2 linked regions of the Homo sapiens genome follow. The protein of the gene in region 2 purifies or fractionates together with the protein of the main gene of each other region. This does not show direct contact. Each region holds a gene or a part of one and is shown on either strand. Other genes may lie near its edges.

Evidence for each region. Proteins that work in one complex are often made in the same cells at the same time.
Region 1: the proteins of GPR27 (region 2) and ANKRD13C purify together in Homo sapiens (affinity purification with mass spectrometry; one large-scale study listed by BioGRID and IntAct). This does not show direct contact.

What each region holds. Positions count from the first base shown.
Region 1 is NC_000001.11:70,264,142-70,267,792, forward strand, and holds part of ANKRD13C (ankyrin repeat domain-containing protein 13C), read right to left. Parts: intron 1-3,651. UniProt on the Homo sapiens protein: Acts as a molecular chaperone for G protein-coupled receptors, regulating their biogenesis and exit from the ER.
Region 2 is NC_000003.12:71,752,220-71,755,970, reverse strand, and holds the start of GPR27 (probable G-protein coupled receptor 27), read right to left. Parts: upstream 2,117-3,751; 5' UTR 1,922-2,116; coding exon 794-1,921; 3' UTR 1-793. UniProt on the Homo sapiens protein: Orphan receptor. Possible candidate for amine-like G-protein coupled receptor.

The DNA of each region.
Region 1 (3,651 bases), on a different chromosome or scaffold from region 2:
TTTTTAAATGTTTAGGGAAAAAAAAGAATAGTATTTCATGAAGTGAAAATTAGGCTGGGCGTGGTGGCTCACGCCTGTAATCCCAGCACTTTGGGAGGCTGAGACAGGTGGATCACTTGAGGTCAGGAGTTTGAGACCAGCCTGGCCAACATGGTGAAACCCCATCTCTAACAAAAATACAAAAATTAGCTGGGTGTGGTGGCGGGTGCCTATAATCCCAGCTACTCAGAAGGCTGAGGCGGGAGAATCGCTTGAACCCAGGAGGCGGAGGTTGCAGTGAGCCAAGATTGCGCCACTACACTAGAGCCTGGGGAACAGAGCAAGACTCTATCTCAAAAAAAAAAAAAAAAAAAAAAAAAAATTACATGAAAGTCAAACTTCAGTGTCTGTAAACAGCTTTTTTGGAACACAACATGCCCACTCATTTACTTACTATCTATGGCTTCTCTCATTCTCCAAAAAGAGTAGTTGTGACAGAAACCATAGAGCCCACAAAGCCTAAGATATTTATTATCTTTCAGACAAAGTTTGCTGACCCCGTTCTAGGTTTTGGATACACATCACTAAATAAGAAACAAAATTCATGCAATTATAGAGATTACACTGGTTGGGAGGGTCAGACAACAAATAAATGATGATGACTATCTAGAAAAAAATAAAGCATGACAGTAGAATAGGGAGTCTCAGTGTTGGGGGTACGAGCTGTTGAATAGGGTGGCCAAAGGAAAACCTCAATGAAGGGACTTTTCAGTAAAGACCTGAGATAAGAACAAACCATGCAGTTGCCTGGAGGACGAAAATTCCAAATAGAAGAACACGAAGTACAAAAGCCCTCAAAGGAAGTATCTGGTTTAATCTCGGAACAGCCAGGAGGCCAATGTGGCTGCAGCCAAATGAATGAGAGGAAGATTAGCAGGCGATGAGGTCAGAGGGGAAATAGGCTGCCAGATCAGGTGGAGTTTAGGCCAAAAAAAAGACCAGCTTTTATTCTGGATCAGGTGGAAAGCCAACGGAAGGGTGTGACCGGGGTAGTACTATAACTGGAGTTTTGGCAGATGTAGTGAGAATATAATACAAGGTGACAAGAGTGAAGAGGGAGATGTGCTCCAGAAGGAGCAGCCAGAGAGGGAGGAAGAAAACCAAGAGAGAGTCTATCAAAGAAGTCAGAGGAAAATGCAATGACTTGTCTCAGTTATTCATTGAGCCAAGGACTTCAAAATAAGAAAAGTCAAATCTTGAAGAGATTAGTATAAAAACAGAAAAGTTTCTACTACATTTAACAATAAGGATCAATAATAAATAAACAGGAAGAGAGAATCTGTAATGAACTAAGGAAGTGAATATGCTTTTTATTTTGAGACAATTACAGATTCACAAGCAATTTTAAGAAATAATACAGGCCAGGCACAGTGGCTGACACCTGTAATCCCAGTACTTTGGGAGGCCAAGGTGGATAAATCACTTGAACTCAGGAGTTTGAGACCAGCCCGGGCAACAAAGTGTTGAGACCCCATCTGTACGACAAATACAAAAATTAACTGGGTGTGGTGGCTCATGTCTGTGGTCCCAGCTACTTGGGAGGCTGAGGTGGAAGGATGGCTTGAGACTGGTAAGCAGAAGTTGCAGTGAGCCGAGATCATGCCACTGCATTCTAGCCTGTGCAACAGTGTCAGACCTTGCCTCAAAAAAAAAAAAAAAAAAAAAAAAAAAGAAAAGAAAAGAAAAGAAGAAGGAAGGAAGGAAGGAATGGAGGGAGGGAAAGAGGACGGAAGGAAAGAGAGAGGGAGGAAGGGAGGGAAGAAGGAAGGAAGGAGGAAGCAAGGGAGATTTCCTGTAGCCTTTATTCAATTTTATCCAACTTTAACATCTTACAAATAATACAACATAAAAATCAGGATATTGACAGTATAGTAAAACATGATGAATATTTCCATAACCACATGTTGTCCTCATGTTGGATCCCACAGTGTTGCCCTTTTATAGCCACAATTGCTTCTCTTATGCCTCACCCCTTCTGTAGTCCCTGGCATCCACTCAACTGTTCACTGCCACAGTTGTTTTCACTTCGAATACTTTATATAAATGGAATCATACAGTATCTAATTTTTGGGATTGGCTTTTTTCTACTCAGTATAATTCTCAAGCAATTCATCCAGGTTGTTTCATGTATTAGCAGTTCAATCTTTTTATTGGTGAATAGTATATCCCACGGTATAGGTGTATCATTGTTCATTTACCTGTTGCAAATTGTAGTTTTTGGCTATTACAAATAAAGCTGATATAAAATAAACATTTGTGTACTTTTTGTGTGTGTGTGAACATACTCTTCATTTGTCTGATCTAAATGCCTAGCAAACTAATACAGCTATTCTAGGTTCTTTGCCTTTCCATCCAAATTTTAAAATAATCTTGCCTATGTCTATAAAAATATCTTGCTGGGAGTTGTCTCTCAGCACTGCTTTAGCTATGTTCCACAAATTTTGATATGTTGCAATTTCATTTTCATTCAGTTCAATTTATTGTTTTATTTCCTTTGAGACTTCCCTTTGACATATAGATTATTTAGAAGAGTGCTCTTTAAGTTTCCAAGTGTTTGGACATTCTCTTGTCTTTTTTCTAATATTAATTCCTAGTTTAATTCCATTGTAATCAGAGAACACACTCGGTATGATTTTCGGTTCTTTTATATATATTCAGGTTTGTTTATAGCCAATATGGTCTACCTTGGTATATGTTCCATGGGCACTTGAAATGTATGTGTATTCTGCTGTTGTTGGGTAGAGTATTCTATAAATGCCAATTAAATCCTTTGGCTTATGATGTTGTTGATCTACATCCTTGCAAATTTTCTGTCTGTTGTTATATCAATTGTTGAGAGAAGGGTGTTGAGTCTCCAGTTATAATTGTGGATCTATTTTTCCTTTCCATTCTTTCAATTTTTGTTTCATCTATCTTGCAACTCTGTTACTTGGTATATATACATTTAGAATGGTCACATCTTCTTCATAGATTGACCCTTTTATCACTAAATAATGTCCCTCTCTGTCTCTAATAATTTTCTTTGCTCTGATATCTGCCTTAATTTTAATATGGCCAATCCTGTTTTCCTTTGATTAGTGTTTGCATGATATATCTTTTTCCACTCTTTCACTTCTAATCGGCCTATATCATTATATTTCAAGTGAGTTTACTGAAAATAGCAGACAATTGGATCATGGTTTTTGTTTTGTTTTGTTTTTTTATTGAAACAATCCTGCTCTGTCACCCAGGCTGGAATGAGTACAGTGGCGCGATCTTGGCTCACTGCAACTTCCGTCAGCCTCCTAAGTTTAAGCAATTCTCCCACCTCAGCCTCCCAAGTAGCTGGGATTACAGGGATGAGCCACTGCACCCAGCCTGGATCATGTTTTTTAATCCACTTTACCAATCACTATCTTTTAATTGGTATATTTAGACCATTTACATTTAATGGTATTATTAATATGTTAGGGCTTAGGTCTGCTATTTTATTTTTTGTTTTCTGTTCATTCTCTCTGTTCTTCATTTCTCTGTTTTCTTTTTCTTGCCATCCTTAGGTTACCTATTTTTTAGAATTTCATTTTAATTTATCTATGGTGTTTTTGAGTTATCTCTTTTTACAGCTTCTATAGT
Region 2 (3,751 bases):
TCATTACTAACCAAAACACTTTACTCTTTTAAAACTTACAACTTGACAGAAATGTTTCCATTCAAGATTGCTATAATACAGAGAGCAGTTGTCACTGACGTGGTTTTTAGCAGCAGAAAGTAAACCGGGAACCAAATCTTACTTGTTACTTACTGCTTTAAAAAAATGACTGCCTTGCTACTGATCTCCATCTCTGCTCTTTAAGTTCAATATCAACACTGAGACTTTCAAAGAACCAGCGCAGCACAAGGACCCTGCAGCCGGCAATTCAGAGGGCATTTCGGACAACTTCCCCCCACCCCCCACTTTCTCCTGCTTCCAACAGAAGATCCTCAAGAAATCTAACTTGTGAAGAAGTCCCCCTAGGTTCCTCTACTTCACTGCAAAATGTAATGCCACTTGAGGTTGTCAAAAATAGCTTCTGTAGAAAACTGGCCATGGTCTTTAGGAAACGTTGCATGAAGAAAATTAGTACAGCCTTTATAGAAAAAGAAAAAAAGGAACCACACATGGAATAAAAGACGTCAGTACCGCTACAAAAAGACTGCAGGGCCTATTGTCAGGAAGAAAGTCGAGTTAGGAGGACGAATGTGCGGAGCTGGAGTGGGCTGAGCATCCTACTCCTCACCCACCCCACCCCCAAAGGAGTCAGTACAATCCAAGTGTCTGTCCACTTCGAGTCATTTTGAAGGCAGCTTAGAAAATTAAACAGGGGCCAGAAGGAAAAGATACAACGTCACCGTCCGAGCCAAAGGGAAAGGCTGGGTTGGGGGTCTATGTGGCGGGGCCTCCCTCATAAACCAATGCCTTTCAGGTCGCAGGGATGGGTCGCCTGGGTGGTCCGGGGGCTCTGGCAGCAGGGGAACTGGGCCCTGAAGCAGTCCCTCAGCTCCCTGTTGAAGAGGAAGCACACGACGGGGTTGATGCCGGCCTGCGCGAAGGTCAGCCACACGGAGGCCGTCAGGTAGGCCTGGGGGACGGCGCCGGGCCGCACCAGGACCCGCAGGTAGCTGGCCACGACGTAGGGCCCCCAGAGGAGCAGGAAGAGCAGCGTGACGGCGTAGAACATCTTGCACAGCCTCTTCTCCGTCTTGAATTCTTCCAGCACGAGGAGGCGGCGCGCGCCGCGGCCCGGCCCTGCGGGCCGGATGCCCACAAGCGCGGGCGGCGTGGGCCCGCGGCCGAAGCCCGCCGTCCAGTTGGCGGCCGCCTGGCCGGTGGCGCCCGGGCCGTGGAAGGTCCAGTCGTGGCTGACGGCGGGCACCAGGCGCGCGGGCCGCATCTTGCGGCGGTCGTGGATGAAGAAGAGCAGGCGGAGGTAGACGAGGTGCGTGGCGCCCACCACCACGGCCAGCAGCAGCAGGAAGCCCAGCGCGCCGGGGGCGCCGTCGGGCCGCTGCTCCAGGGCGCACGGCGCGTCCTCGTCGTCGCCACCGCCGTCCAGCACTGGCGGGAAGGCCGCGGCCAGCGCCAGCGCCCAGGCGGCGCACACCAGCATGGCGGCGCACGGCCAGCCGGCCAGGCGCTCTGCATAGAAGCGGTGGTGCGCGATGGCCAGGTAGCGGGTGACGCCCACGCCCAGCAGCAGGAAGGCGGCGTGGAAGCAGAAGAGCGCGGCCAGGAAGGCGAGCAGCTTGCAGCCCAGCGCGCCCGGCGGCGCCCCCGCCGCGGCCGCCGCACGCCGCGCCGCCAGCATGACGGCCGGGAGGCAGGCGAGCGCGCGCAGCCCGTCGGCCAGGCACAGGTCGAGCAGCAGGTAGTACGGGGCGCGGTGCAGGCTGCGCTCCCGCACGATCAGCAGCGCGAACAGCACGTTGCCCGCTAGGCTCACGCACAGCAGCAGGCTGAGCGTGGCCAGCTTGAGGCCCAGGGCGGCCGCCTCGCCGCCGCCGCTGCCACCCGGCTCGCTCGCGTTCGCCATCGCGGCCTCACCAGGCCGTGCGCTCCGCCCCGGGGCCGTCCCCTGCCTCGCCGCTCCCGCAGGCCGCCCGGCCCGAGCTCCGCCGCTCCGCCGGCCCTGGGCGAGCTCCCCGTCCTGCGGGGCTCAGCCCGCTCCCGGCCGGCCCCTCCTGGGCTCCCCGAGCCGCCGCTGTGCCGCCGCCGCCATCTCAGGAATGGTGCGCGCAGGAGGAGGCGGCCACTCCCTGCGCCCTAGGCGCCGCGGGCTTCACTGCGGACAGGGCCTCGCCACCGTCCGCAGCCCCCCGCATCCTCCTCCGTCTCCTCCTACTCCTCCGCTGCTGCCGCCGCGCCTCTTGGCTCTGCCCCCCGCCGGGCCCGCCGCCGCCGCTGCCGCCGCTGCCGCCGCCGCCGCCGCCGCCGCGGAGCCCCCTCCCCTCCGCCGGAGCGCGCAGCGCGGCCGCCGCCGCCAGCCCCGCCGAGGCATCCCGCACCGCCTGGGCCCGGCTGGGCTGGGGGCGCCTCCGCAGCAGCCGCGGGGTCGGGAGGCGGCCGGGAGGGAGGCAGGGCCCAGGACGCAAGGTGGCGACAAGTCGCGTTTGGCCCCAGGTAACGGGGGTCCGGCGGCGGCGCCCGCGCTGGGGTCACGGTGGCCGTGCGCGGGGGAGGTTGCCTGGGCTGGCAGGGTCGGGAGGCCTCAGAGGGGACAGGAATATCTGGAATGAGCCTTCTGCCCGAAAGCTGGGAGTAATTTACGATAGTAATAGTCATCGTAATCCTAAAACCGCTGATACTCAGGTGCGCACTGATGTGGGTGGCAGTGTGCTGGGGAGCTTGGCAAGCATTATCTCCCTCAACAGTAATCACGAAGTTGTTGCCATCCTTAATCCCACTTTATACCTCAGGAAGCAGAGGCTTGGAGGTCAAGGGAGTTGAGAGCCGGGAAGTAGCGGAGCTGGGATTCAAATTTCGCTTGGTCTGATTTCCAGTGCTGGACTCACAGCGACTCCGCAGCATCCCCTGCTCGCTAACTCATCCGTGATCCCGGTGAAGGACCTATATCAGGGAAAAGAAATGCAGCATTTCATCTTTAAGTGACTTGGAAGGTGAACCCTATGCCACCTTCCTCCCAGGATATCTATTTTCTGGGTAAGCCTGAAAGGGCAGCCCCTGTTATGATTCTCAGACACACCGCATTTGTCTCGCAGGACCTTGCATGTGCTGGTACCTCTGCCTGGACCAGCCCCACAACAGGCTCCCTCTCCGTAGGGCCTCCTTCTAACCCGTCTGTTTTACTCTGTATCCCTGCCCTCTAGTCATTTCCTTCTTAGCACTTATAATTTGTCATTATATACTTTCATTTCTTTTTAAAAATCATGCTCTTCTAACTAGGCTCTAAGCTCTTTGAAGGCAAGGGATCATGCCTGGTTTTTGGTACCACTGCATCCCCAGTGCTTAGCATGGTAAAGCCAGAATTAAGCAACGCATTGTTTCTCACCCACACTCATTTGTTTTTTCTTCTGTGCAGAAAATTATTTGTTGCCTACTGATTACATGCAAGGCAGGCACCTTGATGGGCATTTTCAGGATAGTGCAAGATCATAGAGGGCCTTAATGATCAGGCTAAGAAGTCGAAACTTTAGTCTGCAGGCAGTCAGGAGCCCTTGAAATCTTTTGAGAAGGGGAGCGACATGACTAGGTGTGCTCCAGGAACATTATTCTGGCAGCAGTGTTGAGGAGGGATGACAGAGCAGAGCCGGTAAACCTAGTCCAGAGCCTCAAACTTCACTATGTGCAGAAATCACTGGGGACCCTGTTAAAATGAAGATTCTGATTTAGTAGTTCTGGAATG